2 linked regions of the Homo sapiens genome follow. The protein of the gene in region 2 binds, or shares a complex with, the protein of the main gene of each other region. Each region holds a gene or a part of one and is shown on either strand. Other genes may lie near its edges. The genes, in order: TIMP2 and MMP2.

Region 1 (11,542 bases), on a different chromosome or scaffold from region 2:
GTTCGAGATCAGCCCAACCAGCATGGTAAAACCCCGTCACCACTAAAAACACAAAAATTAGCCGGGCGTGGTGGTGGGAACCTCTAATACCAGCTACTTGGAAGGCGAGGCAGGAGAATTGCTTGAACCCGGGAGGTGGAGGTTGCAGTGAGCTAAGATTGTGCCACTGTACTCCAGCTTAGGCGACAGAGCGAGACTCTGTCTCAAAAAAGAAAAAAAAAATTCTATTCTGTGCCTGGCCTCTCTCCCCTGACAATCGGTGTCGGCAGCATGGTGCATGTCTTGGTCTCCAGGCTGTGGGGACCTTCACTCTCCCATCTGCATTCTTGTTCTCTATAGAACCTGTTTGTTCCTATGTCTCTGCACCTTGCTTTGCTCAGGACCAAAGACTTTTATTGGTTTGTTAGTGGTTTCCAACCAGGACCGTTTTGCAATGTCTTGAGACATTTTTGATGGTTGCAATTGGAGAGGGTGCTGGCATCCAGTGGGTCCGGCCAGGGATGGTGCTGAACACCCTACAGTGCCCATGACAGCCCCCCACAAAGAGGGATCTGGCCCAAATGTCAACTGTGCCAAGGCGGAGAAGCCCGGCCCCTAAAGAAGATGGCTAATGAAATCCATGTTGAAATGCCCTTCAGCACGTCCACCATAGAACACGATGAGCCGCTCATGCTGCCTGTGTATCTTGTCTCAAGCACAGTGGGTCCCAGTCACTCTATTTTTTTTTTTTGAGATTGAGTCTTGCTCTGTTGACCAGGCTGGAGTGCAGTGGCAGGATCTTGGCTCACTGCAACCTCTGCCTCCCTGGTTCAAGTGAATTCCGGCTAATTTTTATATTTTTAGTAAAGATGGGGTGTCACCATGTTGGCCAGGCTGGTCTCAAACTCCTGACCTCAAGTGATCTGCCCACCTCGGCCTCCCAAAGTGTTAGGATTACAGGCGTGAGCCACCACGCCCAGCCATCACTCTTGACTCACCTTCTTGTCATCTTCAGGATGTCCTGTGGTGAACAGCCCCACCAGTGGATGTTGGGGACGGACACGTGGGCTGGGTGCCCATTGTGACCAAGAGTCTGAGACCCGGCTGGATGGGGAGGCACAGATGGGCTGCCTGCCCATCCAGCCGGGCCTCAGACTCTTGACAGCCACGTGTCACCTGACTGAAGTGTCACCTCCCAGACAGCCAGACTCAGACACGGTCCCCACCTTCCTCTACAGCTGCCGGCTCCCTGCCCCTGAGACTGCCCTGGACACTCCCCTGAGGGCCGGAGTTCCAGCCATCGGCAGGGGGTCAATTTCCCGGGTGTGTGGGGCCAACGTCCATGCTGTCTCTGGATGAGAACATCTGGCTCTCTAGGAACCTGCCAGAAAGAACGTGGGGGCTTCGGGTCCGTTCAAGCTGTCTCCACAGAGAGAACGTGACCTGCTCAGGGGAAGATGGCTCTCATCCAGACTGGGAGGGCGAGGCCACCGAGAAGAGCAGCATCCTCCCGCCAGCCCGGCGCAGCAGGGAGGGCGTCCTGCCTGGTGGCCTGAGACGGGAGCGACAGGGAGGAGGCCTTGGCACTTCCTCCGGCCCCGGACAGGATTCATCAGGTCCAGCCTGGGAGGTGTTCGCCTGGTGTGTTCAGGCGAGGGTGCACACACGCCTGACAGCTCTGCTGTGCTCTCTGCCAGGAAGGTCTCTTTGAGGGGGTGGGGGAGCAAGACGATGTTCCTCGTGGGAAGCGGTGGCCCCTGGAGCGTGGTCTGAGGGCCCTGAAATCACCCCCATACTTCACAGGGCTCCCTCGTGCTCCTGTCTGTCCTGAGAGGCTGAGAGCCTCTGCTCTTAAGCTGATCCAAGCCAGGGTCCCCCAGGCTGCATCTGGGCTGGGTGTCGCTTATGGTCCCTATGGTAGTCCACCCACCAATATCAAGATGAGAAGTGAAGGGGGCTGGTTAGGAGTGAAGCCATGGGTTGGGCGCGGTGGCTCACGCCTGTAATCCCAGCACTGTGGGAGGCCGAGGCGGGCGGATCACCTGAGCTCAGGAGTTCCAGACCAGCCTGGGCAACATGGTGAAACCCTGTCTCTACTTAAAATACAAAAATTAGCCGGGTGTGATGGTGGGCACCTGTAATCCCAGCTACTCAGGAGGCTGAGACATGAGAATTGCTTGAGCTCAGGAGGCAGAGGTTGCAGTGAGCCGAGATGGTGCCATTGCACTCCAGCGGGAGACAGAGTAAAACTCTGTCTCAAAAAAAAAGCAGTGAAGCAGTGGAGGGAGCTCCCAGCCCGGGGTCTGCCTTCCTCCTTCCTCTCTTGCCCTGGGCATGGGGCATGCGGACCCTGTCACTTCCCTTATGGGTGGCAGCCCCCTCCCCATGTTCAAGTTTGCTTGCAAGGTCAAGCCCTCTTGGCCACAAAGCACAGAGAAGGACAAGGAGAAGGAGCAGCTTGCAGAAGCTGTGTCTCTACAAAAAATACAAAAAATAGCCAGGTGTGGTGGCGCATACCTGTGGTCCCAGCTACAAAGGAGGCTGAGGTGGGAGGATCACTGGAGCCCGGGAGGCAGAGGTTGCAGTGAGCTGAGATCAAGCCACTGCACTCCAGGCTGGGTGACAGAGTGAGACCCCGGCTCTCAAACAAAGAAAAAAAAGAAAAAAGAAAGAAAAAGTGGGTTTGTGCTGCCATGAGCCAGATTCCAGTCTACTCCCTGTCTTCAGTAGGTTCCTGGTCTGAGGCCTCAGTTTCCTTGATTTTGAAGTGTGAGGACCCTAACTGGAAGAGAAGGTGGAGGGTGGTTAATGAGACAGAAGCTGGCTCAGGAGCCAAGACCCTGAGGGCCCCAAGCAGCAGGGAGATGACTGGGTCAGCAAGCTGGGGGCTGTGGGCTGCGAGGGAGGCCTGGCTGCTGGGACTGTCCTCTCCCCTCCCTGCTGTGCCCTTGGGAGAGTCATTTGGGCCCTCAGACCTCAGTCCCCTCTTCATCTGACTTTGCAGCCGCAGGTCAGCCATTCACGGCACTGCACCAGAAAGGGGTTTTGTGACTCTGGAGTCTCTGCATCTCCAGCACCTGCCCTTTCACTGGGCTCCCTGCCCCCACCCAGGCCACCCACCAGAGTCCCATCCTTCCAGGGGATGCGTCCGATCCTGCCCCTCTGCTCAGAACCCTCCAAAGGCTCCCACCTCACTCAGAACAAAATGCACATCCTCCCGGTAGCCTGGCTGCCCTCCGCCGTGTCCCCTCCCAGCCCCTGCTCCTGGCCTCCTGCCTCAGCCCTCCTTCCTCTCACTCCTCGCCACACCATGGGCTCCACCAGGTCCAGCATCGTCCAACCTTGGGGCCTTGCGTGTTTCCACCTGCTGTTCCAGGGATGTTCCTCTGTTCTGTAGACGCTGAATGTCTCACTCTTAGGACGGTGTCCAGGCTACAGCAGATACTCAAATGAGTATTTGTTGATGGATGGAGGGAGGAGGGAGAGAGAGAGAACCAAGAGAAAAGGGAGGAAAAGAAAGCTGGAAACTTCTGGTTTAGAGACCTGTTTGGAGGAGATAATGGTAGAGGGAACAGAAAAGTAGAGTACTCTCTGGTGGGGGAATTGAGGGGAGAGATTTTTTTTTTTTTTTTTGAGACAGGGTCTCACTCTGTCACCAAGGCTGGAGTGCAGTGGTGTGATCTCGGCTCACTGCAGACTCAACTTCCCCAGGCTCAAGCGATCCTCCCACCGCAGCTTCCCTGTAGCTGGGACTACAAGTGTGAGCCATCACGCCCAGCTAATTTTTTTTTTGTAGAGATGGGGTCTCAGTATGTTCCTCAGGCTGGTCTCAAACTCCTGGCCTCAAGTGATCCTCCCACCTTAGTTTCCCAAAGTGTTGGGATTACAAGCGTGAGCCACTGCACCTGGCAAGATTTCTGCTTCACTTTTCCTGGGAGCAATTCCAGCCTGTTTGTGTGCTGGTGGGGATGACTTCGGGGAGGGCAGTCCAGGATACAGGTGCGAGGCCTTGGGTTGGAAGTTCCAGTCTCACGCCCCCCAACCCTGGAGCCCAGGCCCCCCTTTCCTCCCAGGTACATCCCACATTGGCCCCACCCCCTTGGCTGTCAGCACCACAACTGCTCTAAGGTATTTATCACCCTAACATGTACCTGATCACTTATATGTAGAGCTTGTCTAAAAGACCGAGAGCCCCTATGCTACCTGTTTCTATCATGAACTGACAAATTGAAACACAAGTTCAACAGCATTTTGTTCCCCCTGTAACCAAAAAGAAGGAAAGAAAACGATGAAATGGCTGAAGGCAGCCAGCACATAACAATTTTCTGAATTAACTGTACTTTTAAACGTTAGCTTCAAACATCATTTTGTGAACGACCCAACTCTATTTCACGCTAACAAAAACCAAAAAAGTGACTTTGGATTTGTCAGGGTGCTAAAAATAACGGCATTGCTTATTTAACTTTTCTCAGAACTGTCTGTTACAAAACATACACAAACAGAAAGAAGCTGTTTTTCCATTCTTTCACTATTTTCCAAAGTTTCATACCTCAAGTCAGCACCGCACAATTTAGTGGGCAATTCTTTTTAAAAAAAAAAAAAAAAAAAACAAAAAAAAACAAGAGTCTTTCTCTGTCGCCCAGGCTGGAGTGCAGTGGCGCAATCTCGGCTCACTGCAACCTCCGCCTCTCGGGTTCAAGCGATTCTCCTGCCTCAGCCTCCTGAGTAGCTGGGACTACAGGCGCGCGCCACCACGCCCGGCTAATTTCTTGTGTTTTTAATAGAGACGGGGTTTCACCGTGTTAGCCGCCAGGCTGGTCTCGAACTCCTGACCTCGTGATTCGCCCACCTCAGCCTCCCAAAGTGCTGGGATTACAGGCATGAGCCACTGCACCCGGGCTTTTTTTTTTTTTTTTTTTCTTTTGAGATGGAGTCTCGCTCTGTCCCCCAGGCTGGAGTGCAGTGGCATGATCTCGGCTCACTGCAAGCTCCGCCTCCTGGGTTCATGCCATTCTCCTGCCTCAGCCTCCCGAGTAGCTGGGACTACAGGCGCCCACCACCAAGCCCGGCTAATTTTTTGTATTTTTAGTAGAGACGGGGTTTCACTGTCTCTACTAAATGCTAGCCAGGCTGGTCTCAAACTCCTGGCCTCAAGTGATCCTCCTGTCTCGGCCTCCCAAAGTGCTGGGATTACAGGCGCAAGCCACCGTGCCCGCCCTGATTCTTCCTGTGTCATTTTCCTGGGCTTCCCTCTCCCTAGCTGGACTGCAAACACTCTGGAATGCTGACCTGAGGGCTGGAGTGCTGACCTGAGTGCAGCAGTGTCCATGGAGCCCCACGGGGCACACACCAAATGTACAGGGTGGGTGCCCACAGCCGGGCACAGGCAGGTTCACAGCCAGGAAGCCCGCCTCACCACCCTACACATGTTCATCCCTTCATATGCCTGGGTCTTTCCTGGAACACAAAACTGTTTTGGGAAAAGTCCTTCGGCTCCCACATTTGTGGACTAAGAGAGGAAACTGTGAGCGGAACCCAGCCAATGCCTCTGCTGCGATCCTACTGGCTCCTGGGCGCCTGGGCCCACCCCCGTCTCTTGTTGGCTGGTCAAAAATATGGCCAGTTTATATAAAATCCTGTTTTGTTCACAGTAACCACACCCCCCACCCCCCAACTAAACTGGCCAGGCGCACTTAAAATTCTAAGGCCTCCATTTGAAAAAGGGATCCTGTCAGTTTCTCAATAGGCCACCCGCCCACAGAAACGGGGAGGTGGCGACAGGGAACGGCCCCTGCTCCAAAGGACACCCCTTGGCTCGCCCCGAGGCTGGGCTCGAAGGGACCCCGGGGTGGCGGGGGACGGAGCAGCGTAGCCCTCCAGAGTCGAGCTGAAGGGGAAAGGGTAGCGGGTGGGTCGCCTGGTGTCCTGGAAGAACGGGGCGCGAGTCCCCCGCGCTGAGTCAGGGACCCCGGGCGCAGAAGGCCACGCAGCGGGGACCGGGGTCGGGGGGCTGGGGGCGTCCGGGGACCCCCGCGCGGGTGCGGGTCGCGGGCGCCAGGTGGTGCGGGAAGCCCCCGACGTGCCAGGCCGGGCACAACAAAAGCGCGGGCTGGGGGGAGGCGCGGGCGGAGGGGGAGGAGGGGGCTGCTGGGAGCGCCCAGAGCCTGCATTGGCCGCCAGCCACCGGGAGGAGGAGCAGAAAATCCTCCGAGCGCAATAAAACTGCGGCCCGGCCCAAGCCCGCAGCAAACACATCCGTAGAAGGCAGCGCGGCCGCCGAGAACCGCAGCGCCGCTCGCCCGCCGCCCCCCACCCCGCCGCCCCGCCCGGCGAATTGCGCCCCGCGCCCCTCCCCTCGCGCCCCCGAGACAAAGAGGAGAGAAAGTTTGCGCGGCCGAGCGGGGCAGGTGAGGAGGGTGAGCCGCGCGGGAGGGGCCCGCCTCGGCCCCGGCTCAGCCCCCGCCCGCGCCCCCAGCCCGCCGCCGCGAGCAGCGCCCGGACCCCCCAGCGGCGGCCCCCGCCCGCCCAGCCCCCCGGCCCGCCATGGGCGCCGCGGCCCGCACCCTGCGGCTGGCGCTCGGCCTCCTGCTGCTGGCGACGCTGCTTCGCCCGGCCGACGCCTGCAGCTGCTCCCCGGTGCACCCGCAACAGGCGTTTTGCAATGCAGATGTAGGTAAGGAGCGGCGACCCCAGCCCCCGCGCGGGGCCCCACCTCCCCCGCGACCCCGAGGGTTCGCAGACGCCCCGCCCGCCCGCCGCTGGCCGAGGGACCCCAGCGCCCGCCTCCTGGTCCCTCGGCGCCTTCTCGAATCCTGCAAGTGGACGCCCAGAGCCGACTTTCTTTCCCCCCTCCCTCCTCTCCCTTTCTTTCCCTCTCTTTGCCGAGATGCGTCTCAACCTCAAAATTCCACCGAAATTCCGCCGCAGCTCCAGCCCCAGGAAAGGGAGCCAGTTTGGCTTTTGGCAGGCGGCGCGCCCTGGGATGCCAGCGCTGGGGGCGGGGAGCGTGGGGGACACGGCGTGGGGGCGGGGGGCTGGAGGACTGGGGACCCCAGGAAGAAACTTTCGCAGATAAGGTGGGAGTTGGGCTTCTCTGGGCTTGGGGCTGGGTGGGGAAGGGCTTCTCTGCTGGGGCTTCTCCCACCAGCCCCATTTGGGGGCTCCCCGATCAAGCCAGGGTGGGATGGAAGCCCGCCCTACCCGAGGCAGGTTCCACAGGCCCAGAGGGGCAGGTGAAAAAGCCGGTGGCGTCTCCTGGCGTGGCTCCTTGCTTGCGCCCTGCCCAGGAGGCCCTGCAAACTGGCTGGGCAGGGACCGGGACCCCCGAATGTTCCGCTTTTTCGGGACGTCCACAAAAGCTGGAGACTTTGGTGACCGGACCCGGCACGTGGGACTGTGCTGCTGCTCAGATTCCCCAGCAAATACCCATGACCTCCGGACTCCTAGCCCCCAAAAGACAGGCGCCATGGAGGGAGGCAGGAGGGGCCCAGTTATTTGTTCTGATCCATGGAGGGGGAGGACCAGCAGAAATGGGAGGAACCCGCTGGCTCGAAGTTTCCACCCTGGTCCTGCACCTCAAGCCTCTGCAGCCCTGGTGCTGGTCAGCATGGTTTTCCTGGGGCAAGTCTGGCTACACGGCAGGTGGTCTCGGAGCCCCCTGCCCTCCTTCCTTCTTATGTCTGAGTCTCAGTCGAGTGACCTGTCCAGGGCAGATGGAGCAAGGCGGGGGCCCCCTCACCTGCCCAGAGTGGAGGTGGGACTTTCTGTTTCTCCTGCTGTCAGCCACGCCCTTCCCATACCCCGCCCACGGCTTCTTGCCCCACCCCGGTTAGCCCTAGGAGCTGCGTGCCCAGCTGGGGAAGTTTTCAGTTGCACCAATCTATTGAGATCACAGGTCTCAGGTGGCTCAGGCCACCTGGGCGGAAGGCTTGGTGTGTGCCTGTGTCAGTTTCCACAAAACCCAGTTTGGGGGAAATGAGGTCTTTTCTCCAGTTTAGCCTTGGTGCTCAGCAAGATTTGTGGGTGAAGGAGAGGTTCCTTTGATGAGGGAGCCATAATGGGCCTTTCTCTGGGGGTCCACGAGGAGTGCAGGCCTGTCCAGGCTCCTTGGCTCACCAGCACGTGCTGGGGCAGGATGTAGCCAAGGCCCAGAAGGAGGCTGTGGATAAAAGGACCTGGGAGTTGGATTTGTAGGAGTTGGGCCTTGGGACCCCTCCCCCTCCCGCCCCCCCCCCCACCCCGCCCCACACACACACTCCTCAGCTGTGTGGGAGAATGTCCAGGCAGCCACTCTGTCCTTGCTTGGCATAAGTTAAGGCGGCCACTGAGCTGGGAGCTGTTTCTGCGTGGGGTGTGGATCCAGGATGGCAGAGGGTGGAGGGCTGCAGTGCGTGCCTCCCGCCTCCTTCATGCTCAGCGCAGCACTCTCCTCTTCTGGGTTGCCTGGCATTTGTGTCTAAATCTTTGCATCAAAATCATCCTGTAGCTAAAACTTTTCACCCCATCCCGGCTCAGAGGCCCAGTCAGATGCCAGAGTTGCACTGCAGAGCTCAGGGCATTCGCTTCCTGTGGCCGCTGTGACAAACTACCACAAATGGGAGGGCTTAAAAGAACAGGAATCGATTCTCTGTAGCTCAGGAGGCCAGAAGTCTGAAAAGGTGTCCACAGAGCCAGTTCCTTCTGGGGGCTGTGAGGGAGAATCTCTTCCAGGCCTCTCTCCTTGATGTTGCTTGGTTCCATTTTCAAGGAACACATCACTTCCATTTCCGCCTGTCTTCACATGGCCTTCTCTCGTGTGTCTCTGTGTCCAAATTTCCCTGTTCTTTTTTTTTGGAGAGCAGGCTGGAGTGCAATGGCGCAATCTCGGCTCGCTGCAGCCTCCGCCTCCTGGGTTCGAGCAATTCTCCTGCCTCAGCCTCCCAAGTAGCTGGGGTTACAGGCACCTGCCACCACACCCGGCTAATTTTTTGTATTTTTAGTAGAGACAGGAATTCGCCATGTTGGCCAGGCTGGTCTCGAACTCCTGGCCTCAGGTGATCCGCCTGCCTCAGCCTCCCAAAGTGCTGGGATTATAGGCGTGAGCCACCGCGCCCGGCCAAATTGCCCTGTTCTTCTAAGGACAGCAGCCATTGGATTTAGGGCCCACCCTAATCCAGTATGACTTCATCTTGATAGATCAACAAATACTCTATTTCCAAATAAGGTCATATTCATAGGATCTGACTAGATGTGCATTTGAGGGGGGACGTAATTCAGCCCATACACCAGGCTGCCTTCTCTTATTCCCAGTCACCCTTTCCGTGCTCAACCAACTTGGGATAAACAACCCAGGACATCCCAGGGTAGGGTCCCGGAACAAATCCCACAGGGACGACAGCGGCCTGTCTATTCTCCAGTGTTCGATTCTCCTCGAAGCGATGCAGGTTTGTGACTTTCTCAGCAATGGTTCCCCATTCTGGCTCAGAGCAGAATTGCCTGGAAGATTCTTAAAGATTGCTCAGGTCTAGGTCCCTTTGCAGATACAGAGGGTCTTGCTCAGACTTCGGCTTTTGCAGTTTTAAAAGGCCCACAGGTGATTTAACCAGGGCTGTGACCCAGGGGTCTCAGAAAGGGGGTACAGTGGAGGTTAATAAAGGCTGGCTTGTTATGTGGCAAGCTGGCTCCTTTTACTCTTGGCTGCATGCAGCCTTGTTAAATGGCTTGGTGTCTACAAGAGGCAATTGGCTTAAGAAACAGTCAGATTTCTGTCTGCCCGGCTGAGGATTTCTGGGAGGTATCTCCCTAGCAGCTCTTGCAGTTGGTAGGACCGGAACTGTGGTCGGCAAAGATAATTCATGATGAGGTGGTGATGTTTAGGATAAGGGATGGTAAGAGGTGACCTGATTTCTTCCTGGAAGGCCCCAGGTCCTTGTCCTTTCCAGCAAGGCCAGCACAAACGGGAAGCATTTTGTGTCTCAGTTACAGTACTGTTCAAATGCGCTGCTGGCCCGGCTCCCTCTCACCCAGTGAAATCCTTCACATCTACTGCCAGCCTGCACAGCTACAGGGATCTGGCTGGAAATTAGCTTTGGGCTCACCATTCAGGCAGTCCCATGCCTGGAGCCACTTAGCCAGCTGAGCTACTTGGCAGACTCGGGCTGCTTGGGCCCGTTTCTGGACTCAAGGGTAAAGCCAGGAGCTCTCTGGATGCAGAGAATAAAACCTCTCCTCTGGCTTGGGTGGCAGTACCTAAGGCCACACATTATCCTAGAAGACCTCTGCGATGACATCTTCCTCACATGTTCCCACCTCCAGAAACTGTCCTCTGCAAATCCCCCGAGGAGCTCCAGCTCCAGCTAGAGAGGGGTCCACAACCAAGAGGGGGAACAACTGCTATTTTCTGGGGTGAACAGCCAAGGGTGACCTGGTTCCTGGGGGACACAGTGACAGGGACCAGACAGATAGTAGGGGCCACCCCAGAAAACACACAGCACGCAGTCAAAAATGGCTCTGTCTTCAGGACACGTGCTCAGGAAAAGCAACACAGCATCAGATTCATGTGAGCTGGGTCAGGCCTTCCATGCGAGGGGGCGGCGTGGCGCTTTTTAAAGAAACTGTTGGCAACTCGTTGTGCGAAGTATGTGATCGATCTGTATTGTCAGTTTTGTTCATCTTGATTTTCATATTGGGCTTGTCTGTGTTTCAACAAGCAATTATGGAGTGGCTGCCTCTGCCCCCGGGGATGTAAGGGAGAAGCAAGACATTGTCCCTGTGGTGGGGGATGCAGGGGGTGGTACATCTTGGCACCAGGCGGTGTGGAAGGGGGTTCCTGCTGCCCGGCGTGGTGAGCAGGCCTCCCCTCCTCAACTGCCCAGGTGTGGTATAAAGTCAGTCCACTCAGTGTGGTTTCGGTAAATAATTAACAACAGATAAACTTTCGAAATAACCAAAATTCAGGAGTAATCATGTGACAATGTGAAATGCATTTGCAAGATGTGAGGATAGAAGGCCCCATGGTAGGTTGAGGAGGGAGCTGTGGGGAGAACTGAGGCTCTTCGGCTTGGTTTTGAACAGCGTCCTTGGAGGGACAGGATCTGTCAGGGGAGTCACTGACCCCTGAATTACTGGCAGCTCCCAAGGCAGGGGGACTGGAAGAGCAGGGAGAGCTGTGCACAGCCTGGAGGTATGGCAGGTGCTGGAAGGAGCTCTCTGGACAACACACGTTTCTCCCTATCTGGGATCTGAGGACAGTGCCAGCCTCAGAGCCTCTCGGGCCTCCCCTATTTGCACCCTTCTGGGGGTGCAGAGCCACGTACGCAGTCCTGGCCTGTCGTTTGTGAGCTGCAGGTGGGCTTGGGTACTGCCTCCCTCCTCCCTGCTGTCGCAGCCAGGTTGCTAGGTAGATGCCACTGGTGTGGGCTGAGAGGTTCAGACTCTGTGGCGACATCTGAGCACATGGAGAACAGGGCATAGATGACTCCTGGGAGACTGAGAGGCGCGGGCAGCCGTCTCCAGTCCTGATGCAGAACCACTGACTCGATGCAGTGGGGGTCGTGTGTAGGGGTGAACGTCTTGGGTTCGGAAA
Region 2 (10,767 bases):
CTTTTTACTGACATCACCCAAATCAGTCCTCTCTATAGCCCTGGGAGTGGGGTATCATGATTGCACCATTTCACAGGTGAGGAAACTGAGGCCCAGAAAAGTTGAGTGACTTGCCCAAGGATTCAAACCCAAAGCTCAGATTCTTATGCCCACAAGAGTCAGGGCGGTCAGGGGGCCGCTGGTGTGTCCAGAACTGACAGTATGGCACTTTTCATGATAAGCAATTATTTTAGAGATGAGGAAACTGAGTCCAAAGAGGTATAAAGACTTACACAATATCTTGCAGCTAGTGAAGGGCAGAGGCCACATTTGAACCCAGCACCCCTCACGGCAGACCTTGGGCTTTTTCCTGAGTCTAGCAGTCCCCAAACTTCATCACTCAAGCACCACTTTCACTATTTTGGCCTGGCTCAGATATCACCTGGACCATTAAATATTTTTTAAAAATGAACTGACTTTTTAAACTCTAGCCTCACTGTAAGAACCAACAATAAATAAATAAATAAATAAATAAATAAATAAATAAATAAATAAATAATTGGCTTAAGGCACTGGTTGTTCTGTTTCTACTACATACTAAAAATCAAAGCTTATTATGAAAACTAGAAACTTCCACCCCCGTATTGTTAAGGTCATTCCACATGATGGAAAATTCTGTCCTGTACTTGGCTATTCTCCTGGATTCTAAACTCCACTGGGTTGCTCAAACCTGTGTAACCTTGCACCAGGTGACCTTACTCACCTAGAAAATGGGAGAAACCCAGAAATGGAGCGCTAAGAGTGACATGGATATTAGCATTGTTCGGATAGGGAAGAGTTATCCAAGTATCCCCTTGGAGAGCTGCTCTGCCTTCCCAAGACCAGGTCAACACTCCCATTTCCTGCCCTCGTCTCCAGCACTCCTGGCTGGATGAGATCTTGCTGGTCCCACCCCCTGGGCCTCCATCCCAGGCTACATGACCTCCCCCCTCCTCACCCTCCACCCCCAACCCCCGCCCGGAGGTTTACCATAGAGCTCCTGAATGCCCTTGATGTCATCCTGGGACAGACGGAAGTTCTTGGTGTAGGTGTAAATGGGTGCCATCAGGGCCCCAGGGTCTTGGGAGTGCTCCAGCCCCATGGCGTGGCCAAACTCGTGGGCTGCCACGAGGAACAGGCTGTACCCTGAGGGTTGCAGGGAGGAGAGAGGGTTGAAAGACAGGAAGAGAGATGAGAGAGAAGTCAAGACCTGACCCAGTGATGCAGACTTTTGAGGACAGCCCCACAGTAAGGCTGAGAACCCTGGAAGCGGCATGTATTGATTTTTTTTTTCTTTTCCTGAGAATTCTGGGATCAATACACAATTTTGGGATTAGTGCCTATTGTTTCCAAGTGGGGTCAGCCAAAGTCTTCTTGTCTCTTTCCAAGTCAGTATCAGGACAGGTGTGCTATAAAGGAACAGAACAAGTAGTATCTGCGAATTTTCTACTTAAAACCCCATTCATTTTAAAATCCTGCTTCCTGGCTTTTTATGTCTCTCTATAAAAGATGAGCTCTACAAACCCAGCTCCTCAGCCTCTCTGAAGAGGTAAGAAGAGTGGGGATAGGCTGGCCCCATGTTGCCACCATTTCTGCCCAGGTGAAAGCAGTAAAAACCTTTCACACTTAGCGTGGTTGCACAGGCTGAGCCACAGCCAGCGAGCAAAACCTGTGTCACACCCTGTTGTGGTTAAATGCGTCCCCCCAGAAAAGATTTGCCCAAGTCTTAACCCTAGGGACCTGTGAATGTGAACTTATTTGGAAATAGGCAGGAGAATCACTTGAACCCAGGAGGCAGAGGTTGCAGTGAGCCGAGATCATGCCACTGCACTCCAGCTGGGCAAGAGCAAGACTCCGTCTCAAAAAAAAAAAAAAGGAGGAGAGGCAAGCAGAGGGGGAAGAAGGCCATCCATGTCATGACAGAGGCATAGACTGGAGTGACGCATCCTTCAGAGGGAACATGGCCTTACTGACGCCGTGATTTTAGACTTCCAGCCTCCAGAAGCATGAAAGAATACATGGGGTTTGTTTCAAGCCATCAGTTTGTGGCACTTTGTCATGGCAGCCCCAGGAGACTATAATATTCACCCTGGGTGAGCCACTGAGCTCTGGATACTTGAACCACTCAGGAAGGTGGAGAATCCCACCTTTAAGCTGGTAAAATCAGACTGTGTCCTAGCAAGGAATTTAGCAGGGGATAAGAAAACCTCCTTTGGCCAGCCTCTGTCCACTGACATCTGCCAAGTTCCATCTCATGATGATTAAAAAGAATGAAAGCAACATAAAGACAGGCTTGCCTAATTCTGACAGGCCCTGGACCTGCCCACTGACCTGGCCATTATGGGCCATCAGGGAGCTTTAAGCAACCCTGCAACCCTGGGCTCTGTAGCCTAGATTGGGCACAGGGCCCCAAGCACCCTGCTCACTGCACTGAGCACATAGTAAGGTCACAAGCTGTCTCCTGGTCACTCTCTCCCCTGAGCTTGTGAGTCCTAGGGGGCAGAGAGCTGTCCCAGTCAGCTCCATCCTCAGCACCCAGGACTGACGAGGACCCACCATTTACACCCTGGTAACAGATGGTGCTGACTGATGGGGGAGAGAGGGCTCTGGGGGCTCCCCCAGGGCTGCGTGGACCATGGTGTCAGATCAAGCATGAGGCTCTTCCTTTTTTCCTTTCTTCTACTGCCTACCAGCTCCTTGAAGGCACCTCTTTGTGCAGTGGGAATGTCTCTTAGGAGAATTGTCTCTCTGGTAATCTGTGCTCAGAATTCAGCCAATTTTGGTAGTCACAAGCCCGCCTGGAGGGTGGCTGAAGGGGAAGACAAGAGCAGTGACCCCTCAGGAAGGCCAGTTCTTACCCAGGAGGTGAGTAGCAGCATCTGGTCTACCAGGGTCTGATTTTGGAGGCTGTGCCTCCACCTGGATGGGCAGGATCTAAGCAGGGACCTTGGCTCCACCAGAGATGGGCATTGTCTCAGCCCAGGTGGGCGGGTCTGGGTAGGTGGGTGTCTGGGGGGCAGTGTCTATGCTTGAAGTGGGTGAGGTCTCAGGAAGGTTTTTGGAGCAAGTTTAGGGGCAAGGGCAATGTCCAGGGTCTCTGTCCAATGACCAGGGCCTCGTACCTTGGTCAGGGCAGAAGCCCCACTTGCGGTCATCATCGTAGTTGGCTGTGGTCGCACACCACATCTTTCCGTCACTGCGGCCGGCGCTGGTGCAGCTCTCATATTTGTTGCCCAGGAAAGTGAAGGGGAAGACACAGGGGGCACCTTCTGAGTTCCCACCAACAGTGGACATGGCTGTGGGGTTAGGGATACGGGTCAAGGCGCAGCAAAGAGTCTGAGGCTACCACCAGGAAGCAATGACATGACGCTGACCTTAATGAACCACACCTAAGTTAGACTCAGTCCCAGGCACTGTATCTTTAGACTCATCTCACCCACCCCTGACAACAGCCTTGTGCAGGAGGGACTGAATAGCACCGCGTTTCATGGATGGGAAATAGATCAGAGAGATGATGAAATTTCCCTAAGCCAACACTGCTAGGAAGTATCAGAGCTGCAATTCAAACCCAGGAAGCCAGATTCCAGAGTTCTAATGAGCCTCCCATGGAAGGGGGCAGATGGGCTAGGGGCAAAGGGAGTTGGATGAAGCTGATGGCACCAGCACATGCCCCTCAGCTGTGAGCCCCCTTGGGCAGGGCTTTGCAGAGACCAACCTCTGTGTATGCTGCACAAAGCAGGCGCTCAGTAAATTCCTGTTGGAGGAAGGGAAGAAGGAAAGGAGGGAGGGATAGAGAGGAGGGCAGGAAGGAGACAGGGAGGAAAGCACGGAGCTCTTAATAAAAAACAGACTAAAAGGTGGAGATACAGACCAGGAAAGGCAGGGAAGAGAGATTGCAGGGTCAGAGAGGAGGAGAGAGAAGTCTCTGCCAGAGAGCCTGAGAGAAAAGGGATGCAGGTCGGTCAGAGGATCCTGAGCAGGCCTGACATTTAAGTGTCACCAATTCAACTGTTGATGCCCAATGTCTGTTCTGATTTCAGTGCCCAGGCCATACCAGGTGACAAGTATCCTGACTAGCTACACGGACATCTTGGTGTGGATGTCATTCGCACAGATGTCTTAGCACCCCTGTCTTGGGGAAAGGAGGTGGGCACTCGGAGTCTTATGGGTTTTTTTTTTGTCAGACAGCAGGTGCTGGGCCCTGAGGGAGGGAGAGGGAGTGGCACCCACCGGTCTCAGGGCAGAAGCCATACTTCTTGTCGCGGTCGTAGTCCTCAGTGGTGCCGCACCAGCGGTAGCCATCCGTGCGGCCCTCAGTGGTGCAGCTGTCATAGGATGTGCCCTGGAAGCGGAATGGAAACTTGCAGGGCTGTCCTTCAGCGTTGCCGCCCATGGTGAACAGGGCTAAGGGTGGGGGAGAGAGGGAAGGATGTGAATGAGACATGCTTCCATGGGCACAGGGCTGGCTGGCTGCCCACCTGCCGGTTCACACCAGTGAAGTTGATGCATTGTTAAAATATTAAGAAAACATCTCTACTGGTTGGTAAGGAGCTGCTTCTCTGAGCTCCCAGAGAGAACCCCTGCTTCCCTGGTTATCCCAATCCCTCCCGTGGGACCTTGTGGACCACCCAACAACAAAATGATTGACACCTGGCACACAGCAAGGGCTTCTAGAACCCTGCCTCAGCCCCAAGGGCACTGTCCATTCTGCCTGGTCCACACCTGTACCATGCAAATTTCATGTAATAATGATGTATGACATGAATATATCAGTCATGGCAGGCAGGACCACGAGAATCTCTCTCCATTTGATAGGTGGAGAAATCAAGGCTAGGACAAAGATGGTTCTCAAACTGCTCATGGTCACAGAAATGAAAGAAGTGAATGAAGGTTGTAACTAAAAACTACAAAACACACTAATCTCAATCTCTCTTGCTTAGTCTGTCACTCTCATATATGTGTGTGTGCGTGCACACGCATACACAGAAAGCTTGCTTTACCTCCTGTCAACCCCAGGCCCCTTCCTGGATGGCCTTGTTGCAGTCTCTGTAGGAAGGAGAGAAAGAATGAAGAGGAGGAGGGAGGGAGAGGGAGGTGGTGCCTTCAGGTCCCTTTTACTAAACACTCTGGGCTCCTACTTTGACATCTTCAAGACAGGGGCCATAAATGGAGAGTTGGGGGAGGGAGTGGGGTTCAGAGCCTGGCCTGTCTGTCTTGGATTCTCCCCATCCTCCCCTCATCCACCCAAAGCTAAAAAATGGTGTCTCTGGAATTGCCAACCAGCAAAACCACAAGTCCATAACAAGGACCATCTGTGCACAACGGCGCCAGAGGTGACCTCACCAGCCCCCGTTAACTCCACCATGGCCGGAATGGAGCCCAGTCCCTGGCCTCCCACCACAGAACTCGAGGCCCTGTATCCTCACCACTCCCCTCTCTACCAAAAGACCTTGTCCTGCAATGCCAGAAACAATGGCACCTAGAGAAAAGGCAAGACTGAGTCCAGATACCTTAGTGGCCTCAGAGTTGAGAAAGGCAAAGCGTTAACTTCGACCAATGCCAGCCCCCTGCCTCTGACCTCTCATTTCTACCACCCAGGAAGCCCCTGTCTCCTCCCAAATTCCCCTGACAAGGATGGCAAGAATCAGACACTGACTCAGCCATCAGCAGGGGCTGAGTAACAACAATCTCTGCCTCGAGACCCAGACACGTGCGTGTTGTGCGTACTTGCATCTGGCTAAGCACAAAGTAAATGGCTAATGTCCAATGCAGGGAATAACCCTTCCCAAATTTATGAAATACAGCTGTTTCCACATCTAACTATCACCAAAGCTTTCTGTTCCTATCAGAGGGGTGACACAGGGAAGGGTTAACGCCACATGTAATCCCTACCGGGAAACGCAAGATACAAAAAATATTTTTATTTCAAAATGTCTGACTTATTAATGGTGAATGGCTTAAACTCTTACTTAATATAAAGTTTAGCTCTGGTAGTAAAAGCATAAACAGGAAGGGAATTAACTAGCTCTTTGTTTCTTTCATTCTGTCAAGATGGTTGGTGCTTAGTTTTCAGTTACAGTGGGGTTAGGGAGATTCACAGACATAAAATTACAGACAAAAAGACAGTCTTTAGTCTATGTAGACTATAGAGTCTTTGTGACATGGGAAAGAAGATAGTGTTAAAAATTTTTAGACTTTTTTCCATTTTCGCCAGGTTTTCTGGGCTTTCAATCTGCAGAATTATCAAATATGATGACTTCATAGAGTATGAAGTTACATTGTCTTTTTGTGATTTATGACTATTAAGTGTGTCAAGGATATTTTTAAAAAGGATTGAGTGTGTATGTCAATATCTGTACCCCATTTTAAAAGATTTCCCCCATGTGGCTTCAAAATCTCTGAAATGTTGCATCTCAGGCACTGACAAGCACACAAACACAAATACTGAGTCAAGCCTAAAGTCTTTATCAAGACACAGAGATGCAGACACAAGCTAGACAGGAGGCAGAAAAAGACAGTGCCCAAGAGAGGCAGATAGTATAGCCCCCGTGCCCAGACACACACACACACACACACACACACACACACACACACACACAGGCACACACACACACACACACACACGCATTAGCAGAGGCAGCATCAGGACCAAGGCAGGAGCAATAGCTGAAATTCCTCAGTTGGAGTACGCAAACCAGGTTGAGTCCAGCCCTGGTCTGAGTCCTGCCTCCCTATCACACTGCTAGGTTTCCAGCTACCAGCAAGCCTTTCCTCATGCCCTTGAAGTATCAATCTTGACTGAAGTGTAAAGACTGGTTCTAGAGAGAACCACTGGGCATTGTAATAGTTCTAAGTTCACTCCAATATATATTAGAAATAAATAATTAGCAAATCAAATCTGTGACTTCCTAAATGATTGCTAATGGTGAAACTTAAAAAAAATCAACTTGATTTAATTAGAGTACTACGTTCATCATGGTACTGGTGGGAGAGAAACAGCAATGGCTCAGATCAGGATGGGGGGGAACTGAGTGAAGGACGTTGGAGGGATGCTCATTAACTGGCAGTGGCAGCCAGTCCTGGAGAGTGTGGAGGGAAGAGCACACTGGGGAGCCCGGGAAGCTGGAGGCTTGGGGTGGAAAGTCTTGGGGACTAGAGTGGATGCTCACCTTCATGGGGACAGAAGCCGTACTTGCCATCCTTCTCAAAGTTGTAGGTGGTGGAGCACCAGAGGAAGCCATCGCTGCGGCCGGTATCAGTGCAGCTGTTGTACTCCTTGCCATTGAACAAGAAGGGGAACTTGCAGTACTCCCCATCGGCGTTCCCATACTTCACACGGACCACTAAAGAGTGACATGGAAGGGGGAGGTTGGACTTCTCCAGGCCTTCTTTGGAGACCAAGATTCTGACTCACCCAGATGTGTGACTTTCCTCCCCTCCCACCTCTCTGGTCCAAGCAAATGGAGTGGAGAGAGGACAGGAGAGAAGGTCTGGGGCATGCAGAGGGCCCCTTTCTCACCTTGGCCTTCTCCCAAGGTCCATAGCTCATCGTCATCAAAATGGGAGTCTCCCCCAACACCAGTGCCTGGGGCGAAGGCATGAGCCAGGAGTCCGTCCTTACCGTCAAAGGGGTATCCATCGCCATGCTCTGAAACACACACTGGGTCTTAGCGTCTAGCTGTGCCACCTAGACCCTGAAACCCCTCCACACCCCATCTACATGTGGAGCCTGTCAGCCCACCCAGCATCTGTCCCCTTCCCTTGTCCCAGTGGGGTTATCCAGGACTGTCAACAGGAGCTCAGTAGAGATCTGCTGACCTGGTTGTTACCATCCTATGGTCTACACTGCTCTCCCAGGTTTACATGACTCCCAGTATCCATACCCTCTACCTCCATTGTCTACTCTACCACCATGACACTATATGTACCACATACCCACATTACCACACTAGTGTCCTCACCCCATCTTCATCATCCCCAGTGTCTATGCCATCCTCCATCCTGTCAATACTGCCCTCTTAACCACAATCCTGCCTTCATGTCACACTATCACCAATATCTGCAACATGAATCCTCATGCCCACCTTGTCACCAAGGCCTGTACCACCCACCCACTTGTCTACATTGTTTCCCCTGCTCTTTACCTTCATCACTTACCACTCAGTGTCTATACCACATACCTTTATGTCTGTGCTACTGGCAGTGTTCACACCATAAACTCACATGGCCACCTGGCCCCAGGTTCTACGACCCTTCCTCTAGTGTCTACACTGCTCCACTGTTTCCAAACCACTCTCATATATCTACAGTTCCTCAGTGTCTACCAGCATCATCCAACAGAGCTTTCTGTGATTAAGAGGAATATTCTTTGTCTGTGCTGTCCAAAATCAATAGTCACTAGCCTCCTGTGTCTTTTGAGCACTTAAAATGTGCCCAGTGTGACCAGGAAACTAATTTAAAATTTTTAACTAATTTAAATTTAAACAGCCATGTATATTCTGCCTAATGGCTGCCATATTGGACAGCACAGTAGACCACTTGCTTCGGGTTTAGACGGCCTCCAGGTTATACCACAACACACCATCTGCCCCCATGTCAACGTGGCTCTCCAGTGTCCACTCCGTGTTGTGCTGCCCCCATCTAAACCACCCCCAGGGCCCACACCATCTACTGTCCTATCTAAGCCGCCCTTAGGATCCCCACGCCCCTCTAATGTCCATCTCACCCCCTCGTCTCAACACTGATCCCTGCTGGCCCCTCTTCTGCCCCATCTTCTGCCTACCCCAGCGGCCAAAGTTGATCATGATGTCTGCCTCTCCATCATGGATTCGAGAAAACCGCAGTGGGGTCACATCGCTCCAGACTTGGAAGGCACGAGCAAAGGCATCATCCACTGTCTCTGGGTCCAGATCAGGTGTGTAGCCAATGATCCTGGAGGTGGTAGAACTGCATGTGAGTGTGTATGCATGTGCATAAGTGTATGTATATGCAAGTATGTGTGTGTGCACAGATGTATGAAAAAGTTTGAGTGTGTGTGTGTATGTGAACATACAAGTATATGCACAAGCACGGGAAGGGTGCACAGGTATGTGTATGTATATGTGAGCATGTGCCTGCGTGTATGTGTGTGTAGGCTGGGCAGGGCTCACTGCCAAGGACAACCCTCCCAGAATGCCTTGAAGACCCAGGGAGTCCCAGGCCAGCCAACATTTTTAGGCCCCAGCTCAGGAGTTCCATCTGTCACTTCTGGCTGGTGGGGGAGGGCCATAAGTAGTGCATTATGGGGCACAGGGCAAAGATCCCACCATTGGAACCCAGCACCACCCATACAGAGCACAGCTCTTGGCCCAATTAGCAACCAGTTATAACCCAATTGGGCTGCTAAACCCAATTAGCTACCAATCATCACGTTCCTTCTGCCCATCCCAATGACCTCATCTAAAAACAATAACAATGACTAGCATTACTACACTCTTGCTCTGTGTCAAAAATCATAGAAGCCGTTTGTATTAGTTCAGCCTAGCTTAGTTCCCCAACATACCATATAAGGGCATTTTTTAAGCCCCATTTTGTAGATTGGAAAGCCAACATTCACAGCACTGAAAAGTAACCCAATGTCTCATGGCCAGCAAGTATGAAACTCAAGTCTGTCTGACTTCATTTTCTAAGAACTGTGTATTGAAACTCCCTAAGATGTCAAGCCTTCACAAAAGACACCTCATGGATCCCCTGAGTGGAGAGAATGCATGGGTCAAGGAGACTCGTGTCCCTCAGCCCCATGGCCCTGCCTCCCCAAGCCCTGCCCCGGCACCTGTATGTGATCTGGTTCTTGTCCCACTTGGGCTTGCGAGGGAAGAAGTTGTAGTTGGCCACATCTGGGTTGCCGCAGCGTGGCTTCCGCATGGTCTCGATGGTATTCTGGTCAAGATCACCTGTCTGGGGCAGTCCAAAGAACTTCTGCATCTTCTTTAGTGTGTCCTTCAGCACAAACAGGTTGCAGCTCTCCTTGGGGCAGCCATAGAAGGTGTTCAGGTATTGCTGAAAGAAATGCACACCCCCAAGGCAATTAGCCACATTAGGATGGCACAGTACTGACCAAAGCAGGCTGTAGCAATCAGCCCCCCAACCCAGTGCCATAGTCCAGACAGGAAATAAGCCAGGGGTCCCAGAGCACTGGGTGGAGTACTGGGTTCCCAAACCAGCACGGTCACCCATTAGTTGAGCGACAGGACATACAGCTATAGAGAGCATGGCTACCACTTGTTGGTGCTGGGTGCTGACTATATGTCCAGGCACTAAAGTCAGAATATGTTAACTCATTTAATGCTCAAAACTCTGTAATGTAGATATACTAACCCTATTATACAGAGGAGGAAACTGAAGCACAGAGAGGTTAAGAAACTTGCTTACGATCACACAGTTCACAAATGGTAGATCTGGATTTGGGACAAAGCAATCTGGCTCCAGAGGCTGTGATATGGAATCATTATACTCCAGCATCCTTCCTTTACCTCTATCAACTCATTTATCTACCTTGCGGCTGGTGACTTGGGGACTTTTTTCCTCCTGTTTTCTTCTAAAGAGATTCAAGGACTATGTGCATGGGCTCTGGCAGTAGACAGACCTGGGTTTAAATCCTGAATCAGCCATTTGCAAAAAGAAAGTAGTCCTGTCCTTCATGAGTCATACAACTGGCCCTGCCCAAACTGAGGCCCAAACTGAGCAGGTCCCTGCAGAGGTTCAGGGAGC

The links.
Region 1: the proteins of MMP2 (region 2) and TIMP2 are in contact, whole or in part, in a crystal structure (PDB 1GXD), measured with the Homo sapiens proteins. Residues at the interface, in NP_004521.1 of Homo sapiens: Trp574, Lys576, Asn577, Lys579, Tyr581, Phe588, Arg590, Lys595, Asp599, Phe602, Lys604, Ile606, Ala607, Asp608, Ala609, Trp610, Asn611, Ala612, Asp615, Tyr636, Leu638, Leu645, Lys646, Ser647, Val648, Lys649, Phe650, Gly651, Ser652; in NP_003246.1 of Homo sapiens: Ile162, Pro163, Cys164, Tyr165, Ile166, Pro169, Leu173, Met175, Val178, Thr179, Phe191, Arg196, Asp198, Ser200, Cys201, Ala202, Trp203, Tyr204, Arg205, Ala208, Lys211, Gln212, Glu213, Phe214, Leu215, Asp216, Glu218.

The regions. Positions count from the first base shown.
Region 1 is NC_000017.11:78,920,069-78,931,610, reverse strand, and holds the start of TIMP2 (metalloproteinase inhibitor 2 precursor), read left to right. Parts: upstream 1-6,223; 5' UTR 6,224-6,522; coding exon 6,523-6,652; intron 6,653-11,542. UniProt on the Homo sapiens protein: Complexes with metalloproteinases (such as collagenases) and irreversibly inactivates them by binding to their catalytic zinc cofactor. Known to act on MMP-1, MMP-2, MMP-3, MMP-7, MMP-8, MMP-9, MMP-10, MMP-13, MMP-14, MMP-15, MMP-16 and MMP-19.
Region 2 is NC_000016.10:55,482,198-55,492,964, reverse strand, and holds part of MMP2 (72 kDa type IV collagenase isoform 1 preproprotein), read right to left. Parts: intron 10,057-10,767; coding exon 9,830-10,056; intron 8,950-9,829; coding exon 8,801-8,949; intron 7,667-8,800; coding exon 7,538-7,666; intron 7,362-7,537; coding exon 7,188-7,361; intron 4,423-7,187; coding exon 4,249-4,422; intron 3,315-4,248; coding exon 3,141-3,314; intron 1,165-3,140; coding exon 1,009-1,164; intron 1-1,008.